Linked DNA regions of Homo sapiens. The protein of the gene in region 2 interacts with the protein of the main gene of each other region in a pairwise test. Each region holds a gene or a part of one and is shown on either strand. Other genes may lie near its edges. The genes, in order: GBP2, SEPHS1, DEPDC7 and IGSF21.

Evidence for each region.
Region 1: the proteins of SEPHS1 (region 2) and GBP2 interact in a two-hybrid assay, tested with the Homo sapiens proteins (one large-scale study listed by BioGRID and IntAct).
Region 3: the proteins of SEPHS1 (region 2) and DEPDC7 interact in a two-hybrid assay, tested with the Homo sapiens proteins (one large-scale study listed by BioGRID).
Region 4: the proteins of SEPHS1 (region 2) and IGSF21 interact in a two-hybrid assay, tested with the Homo sapiens proteins (one large-scale study listed by BioGRID and IntAct).

What each region holds. Positions count from the first base shown.
Region 1 is NC_000001.11:89,108,993-89,112,661, forward strand, and holds part of GBP2 (guanylate-binding protein 2), read right to left. Parts: coding exon 3,480-3,669; intron 1,275-3,479; coding exon 1,172-1,274; intron 879-1,171; coding exon 685-878; intron 1-684.
Region 2 is NC_000010.11:13,317,294-13,320,962, forward strand, and holds the end of SEPHS1 (selenide, water dikinase 1), read right to left. Parts: intron 2,064-3,669; coding exon 1,849-2,063; 3' UTR 135-1,848; downstream 1-134. UniProt on the Homo sapiens protein: Synthesizes selenophosphate from selenide and ATP.
Region 3 is NC_000011.10:33,014,509-33,018,722, reverse strand, and holds the start of DEPDC7 (DEP domain-containing protein 7), read right to left. Parts: upstream 2,846-4,214; 5' UTR 2,768-2,845; coding exon 2,695-2,767; intron 2,607-2,694; exon of another isoform or gene 2,184-2,606; coding exon of another isoform or gene 2,138-2,183; intron 1-2,137.
Region 4 is NC_000001.11:18,110,677-18,114,345, forward strand, and holds part of IGSF21 (immunoglobulin superfamily member 21 precursor), read left to right. Parts: intron 1-3,669. UniProt on the Homo sapiens protein: Involved in synaptic inhibition in the brain. Selectively regulates inhibitory presynaptic differentiation through interacting with presynaptic NRXN2.

The DNA.
Region 1 (3,669 bases), on a different chromosome or scaffold from region 2:
TCAAGCGATTCTCCTGCCTCAGCCTCCTGCATAGCTGGGATTACAGGCATGCGTCACTATGCCCAGCTAATTTTGTATTTTTGATAGAGACGGGGTTTCTCCATGTTGGTCAGGCTGGTCTTGAACTCCCGACCTGAGGTGATCCGCCCCCGTCGGCCTCCCAAAGTGCTAGGATTACAGGTGTGAGCCACTGCACCTGGCCTGGTTAGGGAATCTTTCTACTCATAACAGTGCTTCCAGACATAAAGTCTTAGCAGGCATAACAGAAACAAAATCCCCATGGATCCCTCTCAGTAGGAAAGACTGGCTAGATATTTCTCTAGGTAGTCTGATGCAGAAAAGTTACTTACTGCTCATGAGATTATAATTACTTCATTTAGCAAATGAGAAACTAATAGTTCCTCTACCATTAAAGGAAAATTTGATCACATAATGTAAAATACTTGTGCAGTGCCTAGCAATGTTTATTAGTGATAGCATAATAAAGAATTCCATGTGATTGTATCCTGCAAGTAAACAGTCTTTACTAACCAGAGATGACTGGCATAAAAATAGTTAGGGAAGGAAAAATGTAGTAGTGTCTGGGCTAGAAAGTTTTTTTGGGAGGCATTAGGTTCTCAACCTTATACTTCATTTTCGATATGGGGCACTGGAAGAGAAAATTGAGATGATGCAATTGAATACCTGAAGTTTAAGAGCGAGGGTCTTCTCTTGCTCTGCCATTAACTGGGCCCTGTCCCTCTCCATCTTCTCAGTCAATTGTTTCACATGTTCCTGATAACTCTTCTCTTTCTGTTCCATCATCTCCTCATTCTTCTTTTGTATTTCCTCCAACATTTTCTTTGCAGCTTCTGCAGATTCAGCCTTTATACGTTCCACTGTGGAAGAAAAATAAGCAGAAAAAGATATGAATATTCAATTGTAGGTGTTCCCTTTTCCTTTCCCTCGTTTTTGTTTGTCTTATCCTTACATCATTGAGAAAACTTCTTGTAATTTTGCCTTGGGTAACCAGAAAACCAATGATCATACAGATTAGTTAAGAAAACTCTCATAGAACTATGAATGATACTTGCCATTCTTTCTCTACAATAATAATTCCAGGTGGACCAATATTGCTAACTAACATTTTGAGAGCTTTCCGACCATGTAGAGTGTTTTCAGCTGTTCTCACCTTCAATCGCTTTTTCCTTTTCTGAGAGTGACTGATCAGTCTGTAGAAGTGCATCAGCCACATCCTCCTTGGACTCCAAATATTTTTTCAGCACCTCTTTGGCCTGGTTATACAGAGAAAGGTAGAATGAAGAAAGAGTGATTGTGGGTTAGATCCAGCAATCCCACCACTGGGTATCTACCCAGAGGAAAATAAGTCATTACACAAAAAAGATACTTGCATACGCATGTTTATAGCAGCACAATTCGCAATTGTAAAAATATGGAATGAGCCCAAATGCCCATCAATTAATGAGTGGATAAAAAATTGTTTCATATATATGTAAAACATATAATACCCCCCCACACACACCATGGAATACTACTCAGCCATAAAAAGGAAAAAGACAATGGCATCCATAGCAACCTGGATGGAACTGCAGACTATTATTCTAAGTGAAGTAACTCAGGAATGGAAAACCAAACATCCTATGTTCTCACACATAAATTGGAGATAAGCTATTATATGAGGCCACAAAGGCATAAGAATGATACAGTGGACTTTGAGGACTTGTGGGAAAGGAGAGGGGGCAAGGGATAAAAGACTACACACTGGGTACAGTGTACACCAAAATCTCAGAAATCACCACTAAAGAACTTATTCATGTAACCAAACACCACCTGCTCCCCCCAAAACCTATATGAAATGAAATAATTTTAAAAACTCTACAATATCTCTAATGAAAATTGATGCAAAAGTCCTCAATAAAGTACTAGCAAACCAAATTCAACAATACATTAAAAGGATCACTCATCATGACCAAGTGGGATTCATCCCTGGGATGCAAGGACGGCTCAACATATGCAAATCAATCAATGTGATAAATTCTATCAACAGAATGGACAAAAACCATATGATCATTTCAATTCAAGCTGAAAAAACATTTGATAAAATTCAATATCCCTTCATTAATAAAACATTAAAAAAACTGGGTATAGGTGGAACATACCCCAACATAATAAAATCCATGTATGACAGACTCACAGCTATTATCATACTGAATGGGAAGAACAACAAAAATACTTTCCTCTGACATCTGGAATACAACAAATATGCCTACATTTACCACTGTTATTTGCCATACTATTGGAAATACTAGCGAGAGCAATCAGTAAAGAGAAAGAAATAAAGGGCATCCAAGTTGGAAATGAAGAAGACAAACTCTCCTTTATTGCAGATGGTATGATCTTATATTTGGAAAAATCTAAAGATTCCACACCAAAAAAACTATTAGAACTGATAAACAAAAATAAGATCTGTTATTTGCAAGAACGTGGAACTTGAGGTCATCATGCTAAATGAAATAAGCCAGGCACAGAAAGAAAACCATTGCATGTTCTCACTTATTTGTGGGATTTGAAAATCAAAACAATTGAATTCATGAAGATAGAGAGTAGAAGGATGGTTGTCAGAGGCTGAGGGGGTAATGGGGTGGTGGGGGGAGGGAGGTGGGGATGGTTAATGGGTAAAAACAACTAGAAAGAATGAATAAAATCAAGTATAGCACAACATACTTGAGAGCATAAAACTTGATGGCACAAAAGGGTGACTATAGTCAATAATAATTTAATTGTACACTTTAAGATAACTAAAAAAGTGTAATTGGATTGTTTGTAACACAAAGGATAAATACCTGAGTCGACAAATACCCCATTTTCAATGATGTGATTATTGTGCATTTCATACTTATATCAAAACATCTCATGTACCCCATAAGTATATACACCTACTATGTACCATATGTACCCACAAAAGTAAAAAAATAAAAAAATTACAAATTTCGGATATTAGTAATACATATTTTATAGAATTGCTCTGAGTATTAAATGAATAACGCTCTCAGCCCAGTTCCTGGAACACAGTAAGTGCAACATAAATGTTAACTGTTATTATTATTTGTTCATAAGCTATCATTTGCTAATTGCCTGTGTGTACTTTGACAGAGCTTGAACTTTTTTTTTTAACTGCCGTATCCCCAGCAACTTGACAAGTTCCTGGTATACAGTTAGGTCAAAATAAATAATTGTTGAATGACTAGATGAATAAATAAATGAGTCAATTCGATAAACCTCTTTTTGAGGGCTACATCTGTGCTTCTGAGGAGGAATTCCTGTTATGGTGGGCTCTCTTATTGAATGAATCAGTAAATGGAAAAATGAAAGGCAGAGGCCCTAGGCACCAGTTGCAGTGCCATTTACCTTCTTCCCAGTGGGCTTTAAAAGCATCCCCTCAGCGAGTCCCAAGAAATGGTACCCACCGTGTAGTTTACCTGTATCCCCTTCCTTGGCACCTGGTAGTACTTATTCTTCAGCTCCTGCAGCTTCTGAGTAAAGAGACGGTAACCTCCTGGTTTAGAAAATGTTCCCTGCTTGACATCTTCTTCTAAAGGGCCAAATATATCCTGAAGTAAAGCCATGCAACAATCTGATGATGCTTTGGAATTCTGCTTACAAAAGTCA
Region 2 (3,669 bases):
GTACATACTCCACTTAGCTCCCTCCTCTCAATAGGCCTGCCACTGAGGAAAACACCAGCTCTCACGGCACAGGCTACACTGAAGTTCAGTCATCGTTATTTAAAAAAAAAAAAAAAAAAAAGCTCAACAGTAGGTTTATCTCACTAGAGGTTTCCAACACACTTTATTTTGCAGACCACTGGTTTGTAGCTTTTGAGGACCAACATCTCTATCAATTCCTATAAAATGTCCAATCACTTTCAGTTCCGTAGCAGGCTCTTCCATACTGCACACCATGCTTATGGCTGGAGGTCCAGTTACACATGCATGAAGGCTGCCCTGCCCACTGGTTCCTGGAGGAGGGCGCGTCCGAGTTAAAGCCTCTTCCAGGAGCTTGAACTTCCCAGGGGTCATTTCCTTTGGCAAGAAGTCAGTTTACATGTGCAGCTTTGGTGCCTGTGAGCAGAAAGCACCAGAAATGGGCAGGATGTGCTGCTTTTTCTCTCACGAAGATGGGCACTTGAGGATCCAGCGCCCTTGTGCTTAATGACAGGAATCCCTCCTCATTGCTTAGTAGGTTAAAATATAAGGAAGCCTCCACTTTACATAACACAGAGAACACCTTTTTAGATTGCCTATTTATTCTAGAACTACAAAATTTAATTCAAGAAAATATAGGTCCCATGAAAGACTTAAAAGTTTTATAAAACTAAAATCTAGTTTTTCCCGATAAATTGTACTTTAGGCAAAACCCTCCCAACGCTTCTAAAATAATACTAAAAGGGGCATCTGATTATACAAGAGCAATTTAAAAAATTAAATATTTATTTGAATAACAAGTTTAAGTTCGAGCTGCAATGTTGGCAATGCAGGTTTTTAACACAGATCACAAAAAGCGTGCACAAAAAAGTACTGGCGCAAAGGACAAAATAATGCTAAGAATTAGGCCAAACAGCTGCTGATTTTAAGAAAACAAAAGGCCTGAAATCACTGTACAAAATAGAAAATGTATTAAACACTACCATCCACAGAACAGTCTTTACTATTGATTATATTTAAAAATTATTTGTGTAATTATATATTGAATTGTAAATGAGTATTATACATGAACCTCCATTCGGAAGGCAATTCCTTGTAGCACTATAGAACATCTAATAACATTGCAAAAAGTATCCTTTTTTGCTATCGATAAAACAGTTAATGGTATTACTGTAAATATCAGGAAGGCTACAAAAAAAGAAATAAGATTTCTTTTTTGTCTTCAAAGTGTTTTCCATGCAATGAAGCACTTGCTGTGTTGAACTGAATGCACTACTGGAGAATGTTCTGGGTCCGAGATGCTCTTGAGAGACAAGACTAGGCTTTTCAAATCAAACACTCAAAGGAATCATGCAACCCTCTTATGACTGGGATACCGTCATGTGCCACTTACCAATGCTGTCTCTCCAGAAAACCATTCAAGACGCTTAAAAAAAAAAATCAGACTTATATGATAAATATACATAAAATGAAGACACCAACTGCTATTTGACACGACTACGGGTAATGCCTGTGCTATGTGAAAGCACCTTTAAAAAGCCTATGCGGCAAGAGATAAGTGTCTAAAGATTCAAAATGAATCAACAGTATTGGATAACAATATAATTCTCAACTCAGAAGCTGCCTCAAGATTAGGTGCATCTTCAGTTAATGTAACAGGAAAAAAAGGCAATGGATTTTATTTTATTAATTGTATCCACTTACAAACCGACCTAAGGTCACCCCGATGTGTAGACACAATGAGATTTTTGTTGTTTATAGTCTTTAATTGAAGTGATAAGGGAAATAGATCTATTTAAAAACAAAACCAAACAGCTATTTCTGTCTAGATTAAGAGGTGGCCCCGGGTGTGGGATTCACATTTTGAGTGGCCACTTGTGGTGCGACCTCGATGATCCGGGGTTTGTCTATGATTCTGGCTGTGCGGTTGCCCTTCTCTACAATCCCAATAATCCATGCTTGGTGGCCTTCACCATATTTGGGGGACTTTATCTCTGCACAGAACCGAGCTGCTTGCTCACGTGGTAAACAGATCAGAAGGCCGCCTGGCAAAAGAAAACAAGAATGACTGTTAGTGTTGACATGACAGCAGCTTCTCTGCCTCTGCTGCTTCTGCAGAGATCCAACTTCCATCAACAACTTGCTGCCACCTATATGCAAGTAGCTCTTCCCATTCAACTAAGCAGCTTTTTTTTGAGACAGGGTCTCACTCTGTGGCCCAAGCTGGAGTGCAGTGGTACAATCACAGCTCACTGCAGCCTCAATGTCCTGGCTCAGGTGACCCTCCCACTTCAGCTTTCCCAGTAGCTGTGATTACAAGTGTGCACCACCACACCTGGCTAATTTTCTGTAGAGACAAGGTTTCACTGTGTTGTCCAGGCTGGTCTAAAACTCCTGGACTCAAGCAATCCACCTGCCTTGGCCTCCCAAAGTGCTGAGATTACAGGAATGAACCACCACTCCCAGCCTAAGAGGCCTGTTCTATGCTGTAATTAAGCAATTGCTAGTAAACTCCTAACACACACACATATACACTCCAACTTTCAACTGTGAAAATGACCTATTCGTGAACCACATAACACTGTGTAGGGGTAAGGTGTTTGGGGCTTCAATAACCCATGTGGTAGCTATTTTTTCCAAGCTACACTGAAACAAATATTGACAAACAAAAGGGAACTTTTGATTCTCTACATCGACTCTCTCATTTTACCGAGAATGCTTTTTTGTATTTTTAGAAAATTTAAGACTCATGAAACAGTGTATGCCCCAAAGTATCTAGGTTCCAGTCATGACTCTGTCATTATATCCAAAAGACAAACAGTATAAAATACATTAAAATAAACCTTTGTTGCTCTTTCCAGTAAATAGGCCATAAATTTTTTTTTTTTTTGAGACGGAGTCTCGCTGTCTCCCAGGTTGGATTGCAGTGGTGTGATCTCGGCTCACTGCAAGCTCCACCTCCCGGGTTCACACCATTCTCCTGCCTCAGCCTCCTGAGTAGCTGGGACTACAGGCGCCCGCCACCACACCCGGCTAATTTTTTGTATTTTTAGTAGAGACAGGGTTTCACCGTGTTAGCCAGGATGGTCTCGATCTCCTGACCTCGTGATCCACCCGCCTTGGCCTCCCAAAGTGCTGGGATTACAGGCGTGAGCCACTGCACCGGGCCAAAATTTATTTCTCTAAGTAGAAATAAGATGATGAGGAAAAACTGTAGTCTACTTCTACAAAATGTAAAAACCTTGTGGCTGGGCATGGTGGGTCACACGTGTAATCCCAGCACTTTGGGAGGCCGAGGCGGGTGGATCACCTGAGGTCAGGAGGTAGTTCAAGACCAGCCTGGCCAACATGGTAAAACCTCGTCTCTAAATTAGCTGGGCATGATGGCACAGCCCTGTAATCCCAGCTACTCGGGCTGAGGCAAGAGAATCGCTTGAACCGGGGAGGGGGAGGTTGCAGTGAGCTGAGATCGCGCCATTGCACTCCAGCCTGGGTGACAAGAGGAAAACTCCATCATAAAATTAAAAACTTCCTATTTCTGAAGAAAGGAAACAAATTTAAATGGCTGGTAACATTCGTCAATTCATTCAATTTCCATTCAGTGCCCAATTATGTGGCAGACACTGTCCTGGCCAGAGCCTGAACCAGCAG
Region 3 (4,214 bases), on a different chromosome or scaffold from region 2:
GGTTCATTAATTATGACAAATGGACCATACTATTTAGTGAATCTAAAATTTTATTTTAAAAGTAGAAAGAAAAGGGAGGTATCTTTCTTCCTCTTCCTTCCTCTGAACTCAGAGGACACAGTCCCCAACCTTAGGAGTTTACCTTTTATTTACTCCTACTACCTGGATGATAATGTCAAGTTCTGAATAGTATTCAATCACATAAAGGCCAACAGGAGATGAGAAGACAAGATGTGACACATACCAGAGGATTTAACTTTTCATCAGAAAATAACACATCTATAAATCCTAGACCATTTAGGATTTAAGAGAATTTTAAGAAAGATTTTTTCAAAAGAGGTTTTAAAATATTACTCACACAAAGAATTGTCAAGACAACAAAGAAAAAGGACATTTGTTGGATAGTAACCAAAACCTCATGAAAATATTAATAGATAAATGTAAAGAGAATTGTGTTTATGGTGTTAAAACTTGACAGTTGTGACTGAGTGGAAAAATTTTCTATACTATGATCCCAAGATTACAACACTTTTACTGGATATTGGTTCTGGTAGTCCAAAGTTTATTTTCCTGCTAGTTGGCATTAGAGGCGTCATGCTGAAGACTGCGATTGCCTCTGAAAAGAAGGCTGCAGGTAGGTAAAAGAAGTCTACCAACAAGAAAAATTTACAATATCTACGAGAATTATCAGCAAAAGCAGACATTGGTCTCTGCTTTAATTCACATACATTAATGAGACAGCATATGGGAAGTACTTTGAGCTCCCTGGAAAAGTGATACCAGGCAAACTCAAAGAATTAGGTTACAGTATAAAGGGATAACAGGATAACAGACTACTTTCTTGTTTGTCGTATTAAAAGACAAGTGTTTTTGACATACTGGCTGAAGACTGGCATATAGATCTCATTTCTTGTACATAAATCAGGTCCCTGGTCATTACAGCCCCTTTAAGGTAAGTGAGAGTTACTAATCGGTGGAGAAACAAAAGTACAAAGCTGCCTGCCAGAGCACACAGAAAGAGAATGGCAAAGAACCAATAACCGTGTGCTCCCACTACCTTGCTCACTGGAACTATGACAAGGCAACTAAAGGGTGAAAGAAAGGCTAACAAATGTTACCAGGTCGGGATTCCAGCGGTAGCAAGCAAAACGAGTGAGAACAACAGCGGGCCCCTCTCCGTCCACTGCAGCTAGTGTGCCGAGGACAGTGTTCCTTTGATTCCTGATAACCAGCACTTCAACTCTTCCCTTAGAGAGTTATCTACTTAATTTCTGAATACATACTTCCTTACACCATCTAAGAACCTGTTCACAAATGCCCAAAGCTCCAGAATTGGTATTTCAGCTATTAGAGAAAACAGGGTACCATGTTTTTATTTTAAGCAGGTGACATTTGGGAATTTCCTTCACTGAGTAAGTGGGCCCAAAAGATTTCTCAAGACTGTTTTCAATGTCATTTGGTTTTAAATTCCCAAATGTCTTAGCATTTGTCTTCTCTTCACAACATAAATCAAGGAGACATTCTCAATGTGGCCACTATGTGCTTACCTGAATCCTTTACATGGAAGCAGACTAAGGTCAATATTATGATTTTTCTTAGAAAAGGACAAGTGAAAAATGGTTCTCTACCATAATCTGTCGTTAGCATTTTGAAGATTAAAATGAGCATTAGTGAGTAAGTCAAACACAAGAGTGGGGCCACTGAGAAGCACCCATTTGACCCAGAGGAAGGAATCACAGTTTCACTGGTTGGTGTTTTTACAAATGAAAGGCTTTTGTCAGAAAGGGAACTAATTCCTACGACATCCCAGACTGGAGCTCCAGAAAGGGGAAAAAGTTGTAACTTAACCAAAAGAAAAAAGCCAAGGGTTATCTGAGTATCTTAACAGTTATCTGAGTCACCCCTATTAACTGGGTTGTAGATCTGCTATAACCAGCATTTTAGAAGTGATATCCGATTCTCTTCATGTGTTTGAACATTTAAAGAAACCAGAATCCTAAATCAACTGCCCCCAAAAGACACGATTAGGCCCGTGGCAGAATTTGCCAACTTCCCTCCTAATTTCATGTAACTGTTTTTTTAGCCAAAAACTTCTATTCACTAAAATACTGCTTATACATAAAGTGTTAATAAATACCTTTTATGCCAAATTCCTGCCAGTAGAACTCACATAAACCTCTCATCCCTCCCAGGAAGAGTCTGGGGAGACAAGCTGACTCTTGACTCCTAGCAGTCTGGAGAACAAAGTGGGCAAGGGAGGAGCTCGGCCCCTGGCCATACTGTGTCGTCAAGGTTTGTGGTTGAGACAGGGGGCAAAGAACTACACAAATTCCAGATACCACACTTGTCACCGGTAGCACCGCGGAGCATATCCCGGAGCTCCCCGGCGCGTGCCTGGCACGTTAGCGGGCGCACAGACCAACGCGCGGTCAAGTTGAGAGTCTGGGTAGAAAGAAAAAAGCTGGGCTGTGCGGGCGGGCTCTGCCGCTTGCAGCCCACCAGCCAGAGAGGAACTCGATCCGCCCGCTCGGCGGGGGCGTTGGCCAAGTGGTCGCAGCTGTGCTGTGCTCGCCCAGCCGGCCGTTGACAGGCGCAGGCGGCCGAACGCCCCACGCCGCCCGCCCCGCGCCGGGACCCAGCCCGCGCACCCCAGCCCGCCCCGCGCCATCCCAGGCGGCAGTCCTCGGCACCTACCCGGAGGCCTGTGCGCGGGGCTGTGGAGAGCCGAGAGGTTCAGCGCAGCAGCCTTCTCCTGCACGGTGGCCATGGCCCTTGCTCCCCGGACGCCAACTCCTCCAGCAGCTTCACAGCTCCCTAGCTCCCTGAGCGCCCGTCTGTTAACTGTGCGGGGCGTGGCTCCCTGCAGGCCCCGCCCCCGCTGCCGGTCACGTGTCTCTCTGGCAACCACTGAACGTAGCCCGCGGCGCCAGCGATCCAAGTTTCCTCGGGCGCGATGCCACGCGAGCGGTGGTCGGGGACAAAGCGGTTCCCTGGGCCGGCACTACGCGGCCCGCGGCTCACACCAGCGGGATTCGAACCGCGGCCTGCCGTAGATTAACTCGGGACCAGGCCGGGCGCGGTGGCTCACGCCTGTAATCCCAGCACTTTGGGAGGCCAGGGCAGGTAGAGCACCTGAGGTCAGGAGTTCGAGAGCAGCCTGGCCTACATGGCGAAACCCCTTCTCTACTAAAAATACAAAAATTAGCTGGGCTTGGTGACAGGCGCCTGTAATCCCAGCTACTCGGGAGGCCGAGGCACAAGAATCGCTTGAACTCAGGAGGCGGAGGTTGCAGTGAGCCGAGATCCACCACTGCACTCCAGCCTGGGCGACACAGCGAGACTCCGTCTCAAAAAAAAAAAAAAAAAAAAAAGAAATAGAAAAAGTCGGGAACCTGGCAAGCTGCCTAACTGCTCTGTGCGTCGGTGTCCTCACCTGTGATGCGGGGGTAGGTTTAGTACCTGCTTCACTGAGATGTTTGTTTGTTTTTTAACGAGGTTTATAGGAACCAATTCAGGTTCAGCATTTAGTAACTGCGTCCGGAACGTAAGTGCTTAAAATTATGTCATAGTAGTAGTAGTAATAGTGATAATAACAATAATAATCGAGTTTTTCAGACATCCCTACCTGTGCAGAACAAACAAATCCTATGTGGCCCAGGAGAGCAATGTCTAGAGGTCACAGGAGGGCAGCAACGAAAGACCCTGGGACTGGCTGCCAGGAAATCTGTGCTGCCTCCAAAGGAACTGTGGGTCGGGTGGGTAGGGACAGTTTGCTGCCGGTTGGAGTGAAGGTGAGGAGAGAAAAGGAGGAAGGGCTATTAATGGGACACATCTTAGTTACTTGGAAGTTGAAGCCAGGCCAGGGATCCAATGCTGGATACCTCTGAAAGGATGAGTGGTCTTAGAGACCAATAATCCAATTGCCAGACACTTGCCCTTTTTTTTTTCTTTTTTTTCAAGTTTGGGAATTTTGCAATGATTTTCAAAACGATTATGACGTCTTCTTAGAAGGAGGATGCTTGTGTGATTTAGGTGTAAATTAGAATGGTGTTTAAGTGGGAGTTCATTATTTAGCTTATTGGAAAGAGCTTCTACATGGGATTGTTTCAGAGAATACATACTAAGAAGCTGCCCCTGGGGACTTGGGTTTGTGGGTGGGAGGTGGGGGCCAGTTGCTGCTGCTTAGTGTTAGAAAAAGCTGGCCAGGCACGGTG
Region 4 (3,669 bases), on a different chromosome or scaffold from region 2:
CCCCACTTCCCAGAATCAGACCCTCCAAAGGAGAAACCCACATTTCTCGGGACTCCTGGGCGTGTCCTGGGGCGTTTTCAACTCCTCCAGCCCCCGTGAACCGTGCCTGGGCACTTCTGGGAAGTCCTGCACTGGAGCCTGTGCAGTGGCGCCGGGCTGGGGATGGAGGAGTGGTCCTTAGCCGCTGTTCAGCCCTGGGAAACGTTCCGCTGAGAGCAGGGTGGGGGCAGCCCCAGTTAGGGGTAGCCCACGGCCCCAGCCGGGGGTCTCCGGGATTGCGCGGGCGGAGGTGGGCGGCCCTGCGGGTTCTCGGGTTCTCGGGTTCTCTGTCTCCGCAGCCGCGTGTCAGCAGGTGGATGGGATGGAGGGGCTGTCTCCGCTAGGCCGCCGCAACCGCAACGCCGAGACTGCGGGGGCTGTGCGCGCGCGAGCGGGTGTGACGACTTTATATATTTATCCTCCCTTCACACGCCCCCTTCCCACTGGGCGGGGCCTCTGGCGCGGCAGGGTTTCTTCTCCAGCCCCAACTGGGGGAGTTAAGGGCCCTAATCCCTTGCAGGCTGCCTCGCCCATGCCCCTCCAGCGTGGCCCCGCCCCTAGCCATAAACTCCACCCCTCTTCCACCCCATAACCGCTCTGCAAATGGGAGTTTTTCATTTTCGTGTTTTAAGTGCAGAGAATATTCGAGCTGGAGCGACCTCGGAGATCACTCACTTCGGTGGTTTTGAAACTTGTGTGTTTTTCTTTTTCTTTTAAGTAGGAAAACCCTTTTAGAGGAAACATTATCACCCTCCTAAAATCCCAATACCTTGAGCAAGATGATAGATCTTAAAGTAAAGCTGCCCTGGTGGATGCTGGGGATGAGGCCCACATCGAGCGCTCCTTCCACACAAGTCTTTCACAACCTCAAGACTGCTCCCTTCCTCCGCAGCTAGTATTGTAGCTGGGGTTTTGTTTTTCCAATAGCCCCGATTATATGGATCAGCTGCGATGTGTCAAGCAGGATGCTGGCTGCTGCTTCGCAGTCCTCATTCATGCTGCAAGATAGATTTAAGACCTTCTTTTCACAGATTAGGAAACTGAGGTTCTGAGGTTTAAGACTTGTTAATGACAGAAGTACAGGCTCCTTCCGCTCCCTCCTAGTTCTGCCCCAGGCTCCTCTTTCCGCTGAATCTTCCTTTCCTCTCTCTGGCCGCAAAGAATCCCTTGGGCAGGGCATGTGAGTAGAGAAGGACCCAGGTCATCTGAGTGATGCCTCAGATCTGCCTGCTACTCTGATATTTCAGAACGTCAGTCACAGACACACTTGAACTTCACTACACTCTGGCAAGATGGGCAGAGGACGGAGTAGGGGAAGGAGGTGGAGGAGCTTAGGGGACTTGCTTAGTTAGGTGCCTGGTTTATAGTGGTGTGTGACTTCAAAGGCAGAGACCGACAAAATAGAGGCTGTTTAGTTCTATTAACTGGGTTTCCTGGGATCTGTAGAGGTATTTAACCTAGGCAGTTGACAGCCTGGCTTACCACCTTGCCCGCCTCCGCTATAGCCCCAGGCCACCAGGAATTCATTTATTCATGCATCCAACAAATGCTTATTGTACACTATGTGCCAGACACGGTGCTGAGCATTGGGAAAACGGCCCTGAGCTTGGTAGAGGAGTCCCCTGCCTCTATGGTGTTTAAGGCTCAGTGGGAAATTGATGCTTCATTTAGAGGGAGGAAGGGGCTATTATCTCTCTCTGGCCCTAACTGAGCTAGGTGTCACGCCATGTGCTTTATCTTTCTTGTCTTACAGAATCCTTACAAGCACCCTGAGAAGTAAAATGAAGTCCATTTTGTAGATGAGGAAACTGAGGCTCAGAGAGGCTAGGTGACTTTGCCAAGGCTGCAGAGTCATTGAATGGCAAGCAGGAATTCAGATACAGGGCCCTCTGACTCCCTGGCCTGTGCTTCCTCCCTCCATGCTCTGCTGTCTCCTGGTGATCATTTCCTGAGCCCCAGCCACATGGATGTGTCCAGTCTCCTGTCTGGATGCCTGACTCCTTCCCAAACCCACACTGAAATAGAATCATCCAGGGTGTTCATCTGCACAGATGGGAGAGGGAGTGTCCCTGAAAGCTATTGCCATCACCAAGAGAATGAATAGGCATCTGCTGTGGGCAGGGCACATGTGAAAAGAGCAAGGCCTATGAGTGTGATCCTCATCCCAGGGCAGCGAGAGACTGGGCATGTTTCCGAAAAGATGAACGACAATCTATTTTGTCCATCCTCCCTCTCCACCTCCTTTCCTCCCCCATCCACTCCTGTTCCCTTCCTCTCTTTTTTCTTTTTGCCTTCTTTTTTCTTTTTAAATAAAAGGAGGTTCAGGATCTTTTGTAAGTGGAGGAACTGGGAGTTTCAAAACCAGGTCTGAAGCAATCCAGAGACAGCTGCTTTTTCATCACTGGAAAGGGAGTACAGCAGCCCTTACTACTTGTAGGAGGCTGCAAAGCTGTTCATTTCAAATGATAAATGTCAGTGGTGGTAAAACACATGAGATCACTTCCTAGGAGGTGTCCTTCTTTAGGATGAAATTCCAGGGAAGATTGGGGTGGTGAGATCCTGGAACCCACCTTTATGCTACAGTGAGCTCCAGGAGTGGAGGGGGCTCATGTTCACTAAGACCCCCGGCTAAGATTCCATGGATGGAGCAATAAAGGTAGTGTGTATGGGGCTGGAGATGCAGGCCCTGTTCAGTCACCTCTGCAGCCCAAAAGAGCAGGAGAGACAGGTCGTGGGCAGGGTGTGGCTTGGGGGTGGGGTTTTTCTGAGACCCAGACTTTAGTCCCCTCCCAGGAAAGGAATCTGGTGTTTGGTTTTTCCACCAGCCTTTGTTACATCTTCTGGCCACATACTAAATTTGCTTTGGGAAATCACACCAACCCCGCACCCCACCCCCACCCCACCCAACACATAAATTGCATGACATCTTGGTGGGTGAAACTACTGGGTAAGGCATCCCCAAGATGGGCCCTGGAATCTGAATATTGAGCGGAGTGTCACAAAGACTGAGAGACACTAGAATGTCCCCCTTGCCCCTGGGACCCCCAGGAAACCGTCCTTTGTTGGTTTCCTGAGACTGATAATGATGGGACCTATCTCCCAGTGTACTGAGAGGGTGGAATCAGGCATTACAAGCAGAGCTCTTAGCTCAGTCCCGTGGGCTCTGATGCTTGTTACTAGTGTTAACCATGGTAACGATGAGTACCCGCTGAAGCAGCCCCAGTCCTTGCGTTACTCGACTTTTTCGTAGTGTTCTCATTGGTTACATTTTTTGGCTTGAGAGTCTAGTGTCAATTTCTGCTGCTTGCAAGGAAAGGATCCCATGTGATAACCTCTCTAGGTGTGATGACCAGTGCCAGCCTTGGAGTTGCCAGTCAGTGCACTCTTGGTAATGCACAGAGGATGGTTCATGGCCCTCTGGCTGGGGGTGACCAATCCCACCGCCTGCCCTCTGTCTTTCCCTGGAGTCTTGAGGCCCATTGAGTGCAGTGTGAGACTCAAGTTGTTCCCCGCTAGTAAAATGTACAGATGGAGGCCAATCTTATAGTGAACTTCCAATCCCCTGACCCACTAGACCCTGCTCCACCCAGGCAGGGACCCCATCTGGTTCTGTTCACTGTTGAGTCCTCC